Homo sapiens: one gene and its partners. The protein of the gene in region 2 purifies or fractionates together with the protein of the main gene of each other region. This does not show direct contact. Each region holds a gene or a part of one and is shown on either strand. Other genes may lie near its edges.

Region 1 (4,749 bases), on a different chromosome or scaffold from region 2:
TGTAGTGAAGGGATTTTGCCATGTTGCCCAGGCTGGTCTCAAACTCCTGAGCTCAAGCAATCCATCTGCTCTGGCCTCCCAAAGTGCTGGGATTACAAGCATGAACCACCACGTCCAGCCAGATTTTAAAAATTCTTTAGTTTTGTTTTTCTAAGTGTCAGGCAGCATGATGGAAAGAACACTGAATCTGGAGTATGAAGACTTGGGTTCGTGTTTCAACTTCTGAGAAACTCATATACTTCAATCAAAAAAGGAGGACAATACCACCTGCCTAAAATATCAGGGATATTCTAAGGGTCAAATAAGATAAGTGGTAGTGATTTTTAAATGGTACAGAACTACGTAAATGAAAAGTGTTATTATTCTTATTACACCGGAACTATGTTTTACTTTTTAAGTCAAAGTTCTGTTTTTTTTTTTGAGACGGAGTCTCACACTGTAGCCTGGGCTGGAGTGCAATGGCGCAATCTTGGCTCACTGCAACCTCTGCTTCCTGGGTTCACACGATTCTCCTGCCTCAGCCTCCTGATTAGCTGGGATTACAGGTGCACACCACCATGCCCGGCTAATTTTTTGTATTTTTAGTAGACACGGGGTTTCACTATGTTGGCCAGACTGTTCTCAAACTCCTGATCTTGTGATCCACTTGCCTCGGCCTCCCAAAGTGCTGGGATTACAGGGGTGAAACCCTATCTCTACTAAAAATACAAAAAATTCGCTGAGTATGGTGGTGTACATCTATAACCCCAACCACTCAGGAGGCTGAGGCAGGAGAATTGCATGAACCCAGGAGGTGGAGGTTGCAGTGAGTTGAGATCACGCCACCTCACTCCAGCCTGGGCAACAGAGCAATACTGTCTCAAAAAAAGAAAACCAAAACAAACAAACAAACAAACAAACAAAAAAAACCTTAAATGTGCCATCAGGGAATATAAGCTCCTGTTGGGAAATTTTACGTAATCTGTTTTCTATTTTTAGGTAGCAGAAATTTTACGTTTTCTGTTGTCCCAGAGCTAAATCCAGTATTGAATTCTTTGAAGAATAGAAACCTATACTAACTCCTAAGAAATAGACCTTAAAGTTTTTTGTTCACAGTGCCTCAAAAGTTCCTATTTAAAATCTCTGAGAACCCTTCAAAAATTGGAATAAAATGGCTCTCTAGGCTGGTACCTCTAGTCCACGTAGCTGGGTCTGCTGGCTAATCTGATGGTTCAATTGCTGCAATTCTAGTCGTAGCTGTTCTCTCTCAGCAGATGGAAGGGGTTTTCCATGACTGGCCACTTCTGACATAGATATTCTCTCCCTTTGGTTAGAAAGAAAGTGTGAATCAAATTTTAACATTTCATTTTGTTAACATATTACTGACCAGAAAAACAAAAAGAAGTTGCCTAATTTTAAAGGTTTCTACATGTTTGTTCAAGTAAAAAGAATGACTCATACCTCTCACTGAAGTGTCCCTGAGAAGGTATGTTTTGATGAGGTGAATATGGAGAAGCTCCCCAGCCACCGTGGGTTCCATATGGACTATAATCTGTAAGAGAATGATTTATTATGGTATAATTCACAGATTTGATTCTTCTTTTAAGGTATTCATAATCTGAAAGACATCAGCGTATTGCATACACAGGTATCTGGTATCTACCCTAAATGTCCAGATTTTTAAAATTCTTTAACTTTGTTTTTCTAAATATCAGGCAGCATGATGCTGGGTGCTGATATATGTTTGTTTCTTCCCCAATGAACTTTCAGTCTTTGTAGTTTTTCTTCCAAATTACTGTATAATGAGAATGTTATTCCCCCAAATAACAATTAAGCTATTTGGGGTGGGGGTGGAGTGGGGAAGAAACATTAGGAAAGCTTCACATATAGACATTTAATTTCAGTTTATATACCTAAAATTCTCTGGGTTATATTACCTTTCTTACAGGGATGATTCCATGGAAAGTTTGAAAATTACTGCCTTGCAAGATTACTAAAAACACTGATAGTAAATGGAGAGCAGGGGTAATGCTGAAAGTCAAGATTATGAACCCTTTAGGTCAGCTTACCTCTGAGATTCTTACCTGAAATGTTAATAGATTTTGTAGGAGCTCCCTGAGGTGCCATAGCCTGCATTGGACCAGCACCCTGATATATAGTTTTGGAAGTTCGTGAGATGGCACCAAACCGAGACACTGTTGGTCGGTCTCCAAATGGGATGAGGTCATCATCACTGGTTTCTGCTGCTCTTCTCTGAAGATCTAATCGCTGGTCCCTCATTCCTTTACTCTCCACATTCTGATAAAAAAGCAAAATGAGAAATTACCCCACACTCAGATCGCTCTGTAACCTAATTTTTTCTAGATCTGTAATAAGGTTAAAGAAGAGTACAGCACTCTTACTGGTAAGACTAAAATCATTAGTTACCTTTGGTTGTTTTTATGTAACACTGGTTTTTAAACCTCTGAGGTGAGGGGCGACAGGGTCTCACACCGTGGCCCAGGCTGGAACGTAGGGGCACTCTCATGGCTCACTGCATCCTCAACCTCCTGGGCTCCAGTGATCCTCCCACCTCAGCCTCCTAGGTAGCTGGGACTACAGGCATGTACCAGCACACCCAGCTAATTTTTTTTGATTATTTATAGAGATGAGGTCTCCCTATGTTGACCAGGCTGGTCTCAAACTCCTGGGCTTAGCTTGCCTCAAGCTCAGCCTCCCAAAGTGCTGGGATTACAGGTATAAGCCACTGCACCTGGCCTAAGAAATATATTTTTAAAATTTATGGGAGGCCACTGTTTTGGACTAAGCTCCCGCACTAAGCCCCAAGACACCAGATCAAAGCAGAATGTAATCACTTATGCTAGATGCCACAAAATCAAACTGAACTTGAAAATGGGCCAGTTTTCCAAAAAACAGGAGATTCACAGCAATCAATCATAAGAGGACCACTCAATTTGAACTGGTAAGTCCCTTCTGCTTTAGTCCTATAAGGAAAATAACTTTGAAACAACTAATCTGAGTTTTGTTCCTTTTCTCTGTTTAGCTCATTAGAGCATCTTTCTATTTCACAGATGAAATGCTTCCTGATTAATCAATCACTAATAAAAGCCAATTCAATCTTGAAGAAATATATATATATATATAATGACCTAGTATATATATATGCATACAAATATATATTTATCCCTATATAATGTTACACATATATATAGACACACAAATATATAGTTTGTATGCACATTAACATTTGAGAAATACTAGGTTAGACTTCTTTCACCTATTTGGGAGGTTTTCAATTACCTCTAGATTGGATTGCAACTTTTTGTTTGTTTGTTTTTGAGACAGGGTTCTGCTGTCACCAGGTTGGACTGCAGTGATGTGTGAGCCTCAACCTCCTGGGCTCAAGCGATCCTCCTGCCTCAGCTTCTCAAGTAGCTGGGACCGGCGTGCACCACCACACCTGGCTAATTAAAAAAATTTTTGAAGAGATGGGGTCTTGCTATGTTGCCCAGGCTGGTCTTGAACTCCTGGGCTCAAACAATCCTCCCACCTTGGCCTCCCAAAGTGCTGGGGTTACAGGTTTGAGTCACCATGCCTGGCCCAAACTTTTTAATTCTTTACTGATTTAAGAAAATGAGTTTTATTTTGCTAATACTCGTGTTACTTTAATATAATAACCCTTTCCTTTTGAAAGCCAAGTACAAGGCAAAGATTCCTGCCTAATTTCCCCTCATTTCGTTCCAATAAGAGCCTTACTACAGCCTAAAAACAATGCTTCTGTAATTCTACTGCAAAAAAAAAAATTTTATTTTGCTTTTTCTTCCTCTAAAACTCTCTATTTTTTTGGGGGGGGGGGTGGGGCTGGCATATAATTGTATTTATGCTATTAGATATCACTTCACTCATTTACAGTGGTTATCAGCATCCAAATCTTTTTTTATTGCAAATATTGGTCTTTTCTTAACCACCTGGAAAAGTATTTATCTATGAAAATCTATATAATAACCTAGGAAACCTCTGTTAGAGTTAATAAGGACAAATGGGTTAAGAATAATAGTGAAGGCATACCTTTCAGCAATACCATTTCTTTTTTTTTTTTTCTGAGATGGAGTCTCACTCTGTTGTCTAGGCTGGAGTGCAGTGGCGCAATCTCGGTTCACTGCAACCTCTGCCTCCCAGGTTCAAGCAATTCTCCTGCCTCAACCTCCCAAGTACCTGGGATTACAGGCTCCTGCTACCATGCCCAGCTAATTTTTGTGTATTTAGTAGAGATGAGGTTTCGCCATGTTGCCCAGGCTGGTCTCAAACTCCTGACCTCAAGTGATCCGCCTGCCTTGGCCTCTGAAAGTGCTGGGATTATAGGTATGAGCCACAGTACCCAGCCAGCAATACCATTTCTAAGTGTAACTTTCACACACGTGAAGACATACATAAGAATGTTTGAAGAATGTTTGTTGGAGTACCATACCTAACAGTGAAAGATCAGAAATAGCCTAAATGTCCACCAATACAAAAAATAATCATTGTATGGTATCAGTTACACAGAATATCTCGTAAAAGCAGCTAAAATCAATAATCCTGAGCTACAGATATAAATACAGACTGGGCGTGGTGGCTCACACCTGTAATCCCAGCACTTTGGGAGGCCGAGGAGGGCAGAGCACCTGAAGTCAGGAGTTCGAGACGAGCCTGACCAATATGGTGAAACTCCATCTCTACTAAAAATACAAAAAAATTAGCCGGGCATGGTGGTATGTGCCTGTAGTCCCA
Region 2 (4,749 bases):
GGTAATCTTACATTTATGTTTATTTCTCTGGCTTTGGTGATGAATATGGTATAGTCATATCTTACATGGGGTTAGGTTCTAATGTTAGTAAGGGAAAAAAATCACATATAGCTAAAATCACCCTTGACAAAATTCTAGAGAAGGCATAATCATATTGGAGACTGCCCCATCAATTCTCAGTAGAGCAGGTAGTCACTTTTATGTCCAGCGTTTGAACAGATGGCTAGATGGCTAGGGTGATTCTTAAGTTGAGTGCTAGCTAAGGTAATAGGCTTGTATTGTACGGGCTGAGATTTTAAACACTGCAATGATAAACAGCATGTTGATGTACTTATGCTCTGCAAGATACCCAACGAGAGACTAACGTGGGAATGGCAGGTTTGCATCACATACCTCACACTTACCTCTCTGGAGCATACCCTTCTTGAATGGAATGACTGGTAGACTCACCACTATTTAAATTCTCTATTTCTGGCTAAGTGCACATAATTGAATGTCGTGCATGTCAAGTGAGTGAATGACGTGGCCACTGTAAAGAGATAACATAAATGGATGAATCTGCAACATAAAAAGAGGCTCCACAGAAAACAGTATTTGACAGAAGCAGCTTTTTTCTCAAAATTCTCCGAGACTGAAAATGAGAAGATCTAACAACAAATGAAGAAGCAGTTCAGGATGAAATACTGATAATATATAAAGTGAATGAAGCTGATTATAAAACATGTATGAGAGCTGGATGTGGTGGTGCATGCCTATAATCCCAGCACATTGGGAGGCTGAGGTGAGAGGATAGCTTTGAGGCCAGGAGTTCAAGACCAGTTTGGGCAATATGGCCTGACCTGTAATTTTTTCCCCCCCGTGGGTACAAAGGGAAGGGAAACAGGATCTTCATCTTTTTTTTTTTTTTTTAATGTATGAATATAATTTTGAGTGAAATATATGCCAAAATTTTATGAAGTTTTTTTTTCTTTCAGTGCTTAGATAGATAAATGGTTTGCTTGCTATATAAGAACATAGGTTTGACATTTATGGATTTAACATTCCTGCTTTGACTATTCCTAAGTAACCTGGAAGGCTCAAGATAGGCAGAGGTATGTGATTTTGCTGATTTAATGTGCAGAAATGAGTCCATTACTTAGAAAATGTGCCTTGCCAGCTGCCCGGTTTATCTATCTCAGTACAGCTTTTTCTCTTTCTCTTTTTCTTTCTTTTTTTTTTTTTTTCTGTTTTGTTTTGAGACAAGTTCTCGCTAGACCTGGGTATGCACCCAGGCTAGAGTGCAGTGGTGTGATCATGACTCACTGCAGCCTCAACCTTCCATGCTTAAGCAGTCATTTTGCCTCAGCCTTTTGAGTAGCTGGAACCACAGACATGTACCATCATGCCCGGCTAATTTTTAAACTTTTTTACAAAGGTTGGGTTTTGTCCATATTGCCCAGGCTGGTCTCGAACTACTAGCTTCAAGCAATCCGCCCACAGCTCCCAAAGTGTTGGGATTACAGGAGTGAGCCACCGTGCCCAGTCTGTTTTTCTTGATTAATTCTTCTGCAGTACTTGCCATGAAGTAATAAACACTCCTTCCCTATTAAATATAGCACTTTGAAAGAAAGCAGACTAAATCAAGACTGTTGTTCAAAGTGAATAGATGGAAGAATTGATAGTTCTGTCAGGAAACAGGTTTTTGATATATTAAAGAATAGGATGTTTGACATGAACAGAGTTTGTCATTTTAAACATGGGGGAGAGTTAGGCAATGATATACATAGATGTGAGGATTGACAAAAATGATGTTTCTCTTCTTTAAAAATAACAGGATGGGCCAGGCATGGTGGGTCATGCCTGTAATCCTATGACTTTGGGAGGTCGAGGCAGGATTGTTTGAGCCCAGGAGTTCAAGACCAGCCTAGGCAATATAGCAAGACCCCATCTCTATTATTTAAAATAATAAAAATATTAAAAATTTATTATAAAAAAACAAATATCAGGATCATCTGTATTCAAGAAAAATGTACTGATAAGTAGGCTGCTGTTAATTTCTAGTAAAGAATCTAACTTCAAATCATACATAATTTTAGATAAATAGAAAAAATTCTGTATATTTTAACAGTATTAGGATGATTCTCTAAATATAGGCAAAGAACTGAAGAGTTCCATAGAAGGTGACTAACTATAAATGTATTATACATGACTGGAAAAGTAATGGCAAGCAAGACTTCAGAGCTGAGCTATCTTGATATTTTTATCCAGTGTGTGGGGTGTTACACATGCATCACAGCTATAATAGAGCTATCACATGGATCTTTTGAAAAACAAGATAGAGATGTTTTAAAGGCTTCTGGGTTTGATTTCTTAGTCAGATGCTGTGGTACTTGGCATTTAACAACTAGAATTCAGAATCCAGATTTTTAAAGGTGAATTATTTTAAATAACTGAGTTGTAATAGAGAAGTAATTTATTTGAAATTATTTTAGGAAATGGAAGATAAAGTGACTAGTCCAGAGAAAGCAGAAGAAGCAAAATTAAAAGCAAGATATCCTCATCTGGGACAAAAGCCTGGAGGTTCAGATTTCTTAAGGAAACGGTTGCAGAAAGGGGTAAGTTCTCATGGGTAATTTCCAAATACTTAAGCCCTACAAACTCAGTATGCTGACAGATTGTGAAACGGATATCTGTGCGTATAGCATTGTACTTTATCAGGTATGTACATATGTGTATATGTATCTGTAATGGGTTTTTCCAATATTTTGCAGTTTATAAATAAGCATTGTGAGAATCTACAACTCTTCAGCATTTTTAATAATAAACTATTTAAAGCATGTAGAAATAGTGCAGATATAACAGAACCCATATACCCCTTCCCAGATTTAATGTTTATATTTTGCCATGTTGGTTTCAGTTTTATCTTTCTTAAGAAAGAAAATGTTGTAGATACTGTTGAAACCCACCCTATATGTAAATATGAGCCCTTTCCCTTATCTCTCCAAAAGCAGCCACTATCCAGAAGCTGGTGTTTATCCTTCTGCCCATATTTTGAAACTTCCATATTTTTTGCAGGTGATTCCCACACAACATTCAAAAGCTTAAAATACTTATTTGGATGAAATGATCACTTAATAAATGCACAGCTATCTCCTTTATGTAATATGTTTCACAGTCAGATTTACTCTAATACAATTTAAACATTTTCATTTTCATAGTTCAAATTACTGAAGATATTATTTTCAAATTCTTGCCATGTTTTGCGAGGTAGATACCATTATTTCTCAATAATGAGATTGAGATAATGCTGGCCTGTTTGTTCCCTAAGTATTGTCCTGTGACCCCTTCCTTTGCTGTAAAAAATTAGAGAGTTCCATCTTCAGCTTAAGCATATTCAAATTACTTACTATACAGGGAAGGATGAAATACTACTTACGGAAGAGAATTGTTGAATGAGATGCTAAATCATGTTTCTCCTTAAATACATTCATATACTGATATCGGCTCCTTGCTTAAAACACGTCTGTGTGTGTATTAGCTCTAGGTACATATGGATTGTTTTAAAGTGGCAAAAAATAGAATGGTATTTTTAATCTTACATGAAAGAATAATATTCACAGCTTTGAAATACTAGGATGATGGAATAATGACACCAAATTTATGAAGATGTAAAACTCCCGTACCATGAAATATATAATCAAGTAGGGAAGTTATTACAAAAATGTTAGTTAATGTCTAAAATACATACAGAAACTTTTAAATATATGAAAGGGAACTTTTAAGTGTACAAGAAAAACACTTAAGGTGCTCCTGGATAAAGGATTTTAACAGGAAATATAAAAAACAGAGAAATGTTTATATATTATAGACATCAGTGAAATGCAAATTACATCATAGTATTTATATAACTAAATTGCAAAAATGTTTAAAATAATACCTATTGCTAAGGTTGAAGTTGAATGAAACTAATATGCTCTTTGTTGTGTTTAAACATTAAAAATTATTACTCGTTTCAGAACAGGGTATGGATTAAGGTTTATAAAAATGTTCTTCAAATCAATAATCTCTTATTTATTAATCTAAGAGTATAATTCAGTACAAGGAAAGTCTTCCAAGTTGGAAGGTCCTCCTTATAGCTTATAACTATAATTAGTAGCAGCACCACTATTCAACAGCAGAGAAATGATTAAATAAATTGAAGTAAGTCAATAAAATAGTATTATGTGGTTATTTTAGAACATAAAGATCATAATATAGGGGATAAATAGAAGAAGTAGAATGACAACTGTGTTTTTAGTTATGAGATAAATTATTTAATCTTTGGCTATTAAATTATTTTGATTTGATTATTGTTTAGGAAATATTTTCTTTGCTAATCTCCAGCATAACCTTGGCTAATAGGCTTTCTTCCAACATTGGGCCAATTGTCACTGTAATTTTTCTCTAGCTTGAACTATTTATTTTTAAGTATCTTCAAGTCAGATTTCATATACATTGTATCTTGGAGTTGGTGTTGTAGATATAAATAGTTGAGAATGAAGAAAATGCTACTGAATCAAGAAATAAGTAGATAGAATTTGAGAAGTGAGCTCTTTAATGATTCTGTATTATAACAGAATGTCAGTGAATAAGTTATTTTATATGAAGTTTTGATTTTTTTTAAAACTCTGGATCACAGGTTCTGGGTTTTAATTTTCCTCTATCACTAGTTAGCAAACTTGACAAATTACCTTAGCATCTTTAAGTAGCTTCTTAATTTGAGAAGGTTTG
Region 3 (5,274 bases), on a different chromosome or scaffold from region 2:
AGCTGGGACTACGGGCGCCCGCCACTACGCCCGGCTAATTTTTCGTATTTTTAGTAGAGACGGGGTTTCACCGTGTTAATCAGGATGGTCTCGATCTCCTGACCTTGTGATCCGCCCGCCTCAGCCTCCCAAAGTGCTGGGATTACAAGCGTGAGCCACCGCGCCCAGCCAAGAAGTCAGTTTTCAATGCAGGTACACGGGGCCCATTGGCACAAACTATGCAGATTGGGAAGCGGACCGCTTTGTGCTGGCAACTGACAAGACTCCCCCAGGAACCCGGCCGTTGGGAGCTCTGCAGAGGGGCCTGGCTCTGGGCTTCCTATCCTCCCATCTGCGGGCCCCATCTGCTCTTGAGGTCTGTAGTTCTGGCCCAGAGTGAACCCTAAGTAGATTCTGCAATTCTTTTTTTTGTTTTTTTGAGACCGAGTCTTACTTTATCACCCAGGCTGGAGTGCAGTGTGATCTCTGCTCACTGCAACTTCAGCCTCCCAGGTTCAAGTAATTCTCCTGCCCCAGCCTCCCCAGGAGCTGGGATTACAGGCATGCGCCACCACGCCTAATTTCTGTATTTTTAGTAGAGACAGGGTTCCACCATGTTGGCCAGGCTGGTGTCGAACGCCTGACCTCAAGTGATCTACCCGCCTTGGCCTCCCAAAGTGCTAGGATTAAAGGCGGCGGCTGCCCGATCGATTCTGCAATTCTTTAGCGCCAAAGACCTCTGACCTCAATGAGATCCTAAAATGGCTAAGTGCCTTTCCTAAGAGAAGTTGGATGTTGCCATGGCCTCCTTAGCATTGGGAGGACTGCGCATATGTCCCTGAGGACACCTGCCATAGCTTACTGGGACCCTCTCCAGAGCTCTGCCGACTTGAGGTCTTCACCCCCAAAGGTCAGGCTTCAGGCCACCATCCAGGCCGTTTGCTGAGAGCGAGTGCTAAGCTGAGTAAGAGCCCACAGCTGGTGGGGGACGTGCCTCGCACCGCATGCAGCCCCCAGCCCCTTCTAGGAAAGGCGTGGGCGTCAGCTGGCAGAAAATACCGGGAAGGGAAAGAAGGAAACGTGACTAGAAAGAAAGACAAAGCTTAGTTTAAGGAGAAAGCTCCCAAGCAGCAGAAATGGAGAAGCAGCTGTGCAGGGTGTCTTGGAGCCCACGCGCGCCCCGGGAACGGCTGAGCGGGGCAGGGTGGGGCCCGGCCGTGCGGTTTTCTGTAGGAAACTGCGCTGGGAACGGCTAGGGCTGGGGGTGGGGGTCGGACAGCCTGTGCCGCGTAGAATGCGCGGTGACTCAAAAGTGCTGGCCACGCGCTCGTTCATCCAAGCGCGAGGGGCTGAGTTGGGAACTTGGTTTGCCTCCTGGGGCTCCGGCTCGTGCAATGTGCAAGGCGGGGGTGCGGACCGAGAGAGCGCGCGTTTCGGGCAGTCCCCGCTGGAGACAGCGCAGTGGGCGCCATCGGCCTGGGGATGGAGATGGTCCACTCAGGCGGGGGTCGGGGGGACGCCAGGAGTGGTGACTCCGGGTCCCCGGGGGAGCGTGCCGGGGCGGAGCCCACCGCGCGGTTCTCCCGGCACCGCCGAGCCGGGCAGAGGCCCTGGAGCCCAAGGCCCCGCGCGGCCCCACGCCAAGGGCGCCAGGCCTGCCTAAGAGCCGTGGCGCTGGGAACCCGGCTACCCCTGGGCCGGGAACCTGATAACCAGCTCCAGCGCGAGCACCAGGGGCGCTCAAGGTGAACGCGCCGGGCCCGGGGTCCGCCCCCGGCGCGGCCCCGCCCCGGCCCCGGCCCCGGCCCCGGCCCCGACTTTCGGGCAGCCCTGCCCAGTCCCCTGTCCTGGCCCAGCCCCTCTCCATCCCAGCGTGCCGTGCGCGGCGGCGGCGCGCGGGCGCCTGGGGCGGGACTTCCGGCGCGCTGGAGCGTTTTCCGGCCGTGCGTTTGTGGCCGTCCGGCCTCCCTGACATGCAGGTGAGCCCCGCGGCGGCCGGCCCCTGCTCCTCCTCCTTGCACGGCCTCAGTTTCCCTCCCGCAAAGTGGGCGCGCCGGGCAGCGAGGCTCGGCCCCGGGAGGACGGGCGTGGGGTCGCGGGCGACGCCGGGCGGGTGCGTGAGAGAGAGCAAGTGTGTGAGGGGGCGTGTGAGAGGGTGTGAGGACGAGGGTGAGAGAGGGTTGCTATGAGAGCGAGGGTGAGCGAGAGCGGGGGTGGAGGGCGAGTGTGGACGGGGGCGCGTGTCGGGGGGACCGCGAGTGGGAGGTGGAGCGCGTGCGCTGGGGCGAGCAAGCCTGAGAGCTAGGCGCGCTGGGTGGAAGGGGCCTGAGTGCGCAGACAAGGGATGTGGCCGGCGGGTGAGGAGTGTGTGAGCGCGCGGCTCGTGTGGCAGAGTGGTGGCCATCGGGTCCCCAGGACCCCCAGAGGGAGCAGAGGCAGTAGGGCTCCAGGCGGGCTGCCCTCCCAGTGAGGGGCACGCGGTCCCCGTGAAGGGTGGGCGCATCAGACGCGATCCCACCCACCCTTGGTTCAGCCCCAACCCTTGAAGCTTCCATTGCTGACTGTCCAAACTGGAGGGTGACCCGCCCGCCCGTCCGCCTCGACTTCCTGGGCTCTAGTAATCTCTTAGCCTCCTAGCTACTTGGGACTACAGGTGTGCGCCAGCGCACTCAGCTAAGAATTTTTTTTTTTTTTTGAGACAGAGTCTCACGCTGTCACCCAGGCTGGAGTGCAGTGGCGCGATCTCGGTTCACTGCAACCTCCGCTTCTGGGCTTAAGGGATTTTCCTGCCTCAGTCTCCCGAGTTGCTGGGAGTACAGGCGCACACCACTGCACCCAGCTAATTTTTGTATCTTTTTTAGAGACTGGGTTTCATCACGTTGGCCAGGCTGGTCTTGAACTCCTGATGGGGTGATCTGCCCGGCAGAAAAATATTTTTTGTAGAGACCAGGTCTGGCTGTGTTGCCAAAACCAGTCAAAAACTCCTGGCCTCCCAAAGTGCTAGGATCACAGGCCAGAGCCGCCATGCACCAGTTAGTTCTTCAAAACACAACAGAACAGGAGTTGTCAGTGCGTCCATCGCAGAATAGAGTTAGCTCTGATTGGCTGCTGTCGCTCTACACATGTACACACATGCACAACACATGTGCACACATGACATACACGTGTGCTGGGCTGTGACGTAAAGTGCATTTCTTACTGCTGGTCTCCATGAAAAGCATTGGAAAGCCCCTGCTGTGACTCCCATCATTTCCATCAACACCACCGAGGAGGTCCTGGACCTACGGACTGGGAGCGCAGGAAAGTGGGAGCAGTAGCGCTCCACCTTATCTTGTTACAGAGCGGTTTCTGGGACCCCTTTGGGTGACCAGGGTCGGGGCCTGTGCCTCTTCATAACACAACACATTCCCTTTGTGTGCGGGGCCGTTCTGCCCAAGGGAAGGTCATTGGCATTTGGGGAAGAAACGGTTTGATGCAGGAACACAGTGTGTGTGAACCTGGGAGTCTGTGTTATGTGAAGAGCATGATGGAGAGTGTCCTCACGGGCCTCAGAGCCGAGCGGCCGGTGAGCAGTGGGGAGCGGGAGAGGTACCAAAGCCCAGACAAGGGCCTGGTTGCAGTGTGAGCACCCCTCACACATCACACACACCATCTCCCTGGGGCAGTTGTCTGGAAAGTTCCATGGCAAGTCAAAGAAGCAGCCCAGCATTTGTGAGCAGCCTGTATCCAAGCACTCCATCACAGAGCGGGCAAGTTAAGCGCGAGTGGACAGAGGCAGTACCCTGGCCTTGTGTTCAGTTAGGTTCTCCTAGTGTCCCCTCTGCTGGACACATGCTGGCAGGACTGTCTTCCTCTTCCACCCTTTCCTCTTCCTTCCCTGAAGTGTGAAATCACAGGTTGGGGGGCAGGGAGGTCATAGGCAGAGGGGCCACTAGGTGGGTGGACAGTGGCCCTGTTTCAAATCTGCAGGACGGCAGGTAGGGGCAGAGACCCAGCCCTATAGTGGTTGGTCACTGGGTACCTGAGTGTGCCCTCCAGTTACTCCTGGGCCAGTCCCCTGGAGAACCACCGTTTGGTTTTTCATTCCTTTCCTTCCTCCCTGACCCAGATTTCCACCCAGAAGACAGAGAAGGAGCCAGTGGTCATGGAATGGGCTGGGGTCAAAGACTGGGTGCCTGGGAGCTGAGGCAGCCACCGTTTCAGCCTGGCCAGGCAAGTGATTCTGGGCCGTCTTCCCTGTGCCATGGCCAGAACCCTCCCCACCTTCCCTGGGGCTGTTGCTGACTCAGACCAAGCCTCAGCTGCAGCAGAAAGATAGTGGGGCTAAGGGGAGGTGGCAGCAGGCTGCTGCCCTTGGTTCTGATTCTGGGATGTATCACTGAGGAGAGGGGCTGGAGAGGTTGATCGGGGCAGAGGGTGGTGATCTGTGCCTGGGCCTTCTTATTCCCCCTGCACAGCCTCTCGGAACTGCCGTGGCTGTTCAAGCACTCACTGCCTTTGCCTGTGGCTCCATGTACTGGGTGCTGCTGTGCTTGCCCTGTGAGTTCCCTTCCTAACTCCCCATAAGCCTGCAGGTCAGGCTGTCTTGTGGCTCCCTGCCTCCTAGGTGGGGGAGCTTCACTGGTTGATCTTGCTCCAGGAGCGTGTTCTTTCTATGCAGGTGTGTTGTGGGTGTATTGGGTACCAAAGCATGCAAACTCCCTGCCTGGGGGTAGCCACAGTCTCCTCAGTCTGCACCAGGAGCACCAGTCTCACCCAGGGAAGAGACAGGGCAAAGTGGGGCAGCGTGTGCCTCTGCAGAAGAAAGCAGGTCAAGGGGACGGTTTCAGAGGAAGTGAAAACAGGTTCCTGGCCAGGGAGTCTTTTGGGTAGGAGGGTAGGCACTGTGGTAGGCCTGGCTCTGGCAGCATCTTCTGACAGGTGCACCTGCCTGGCTGGGGTTCCTGGAGCCTCTTGGGCCTGAGCTCCCATATACTCAGGAGCCTGTGACCCAAGGGGAAGGCCATGTGCCCAGCTGCTGGGTAGTGAGTTGGGCTGAGCTCCCCACCTGTCAGGTATCTGCCTCTGCCCAGGCTGTGTGGGCCTCTCAGCTGGTCTAGAGGGGTCTGTGCTGCCAGAGCTGTGAAACTAGCCAAGAGCTTCTTCCCAGCAGTGTCCCAAAGCTTCATGAAGGACTAACAGTCTGGCTGGGCTATGGTGGTGGTTCAGCTCCCACCGCCGCTGCCCCCAACCCCAGTGAAAGATAGAAAGTAGAATCACTTTTTTTTTTTTTTTAAAGACAGTCTCGCACCGTCG

The links. Proteins that work in one complex are often made in the same cells at the same time.
Region 1: the proteins of ARPP19 (region 2) and RC3H1 fractionate together in Homo sapiens (co-fractionation; one large-scale study listed by BioGRID). This does not show direct contact.
Region 3: the proteins of ARPP19 (region 2) and CHID1 fractionate together in Homo sapiens (co-fractionation; one large-scale study listed by BioGRID). This does not show direct contact.

What each region holds. Positions count from the first base shown.
Region 1 is NC_000001.11:173,945,306-173,950,054, forward strand, and holds part of RC3H1 (roquin-1), read right to left. Parts: intron 2,278-4,749; coding exon 2,064-2,277; intron 1,532-2,063; coding exon 1,441-1,531; intron 1,304-1,440; coding exon 1,171-1,303; intron 1-1,170. UniProt on the Homo sapiens protein: Post-transcriptional repressor of mRNAs containing a conserved stem loop motif, called constitutive decay element (CDE), which is often located in the 3'-UTR, as in HMGXB3, ICOS, IER3, NFKBID, NFKBIZ, PPP1R10, TNF, TNFRSF4 and in many more mRNAs.
Region 2 is NC_000015.10:52,554,945-52,559,693, reverse strand, and holds part of ARPP19 (cAMP-regulated phosphoprotein 19), read left to right. Parts: intron 1-2,471; coding exon 2,472-2,594; intron 2,595-4,749. UniProt on the Homo sapiens protein: Protein phosphatase inhibitor that specifically inhibits protein phosphatase 2A (PP2A) during mitosis. Inhibition of PP2A is enhanced when ARPP19 is phosphorylated.
Region 3 is NC_000011.10:907,459-912,732, reverse strand, and holds the start of CHID1 (chitinase domain-containing protein 1 isoform a precursor), read left to right. Parts: upstream 1-1,922; 5' UTR 1,923-1,958; exon of another isoform or gene 1,959-2,092; intron 2,093-4,087; exon of another isoform or gene 4,088-4,191; intron 4,192-5,274.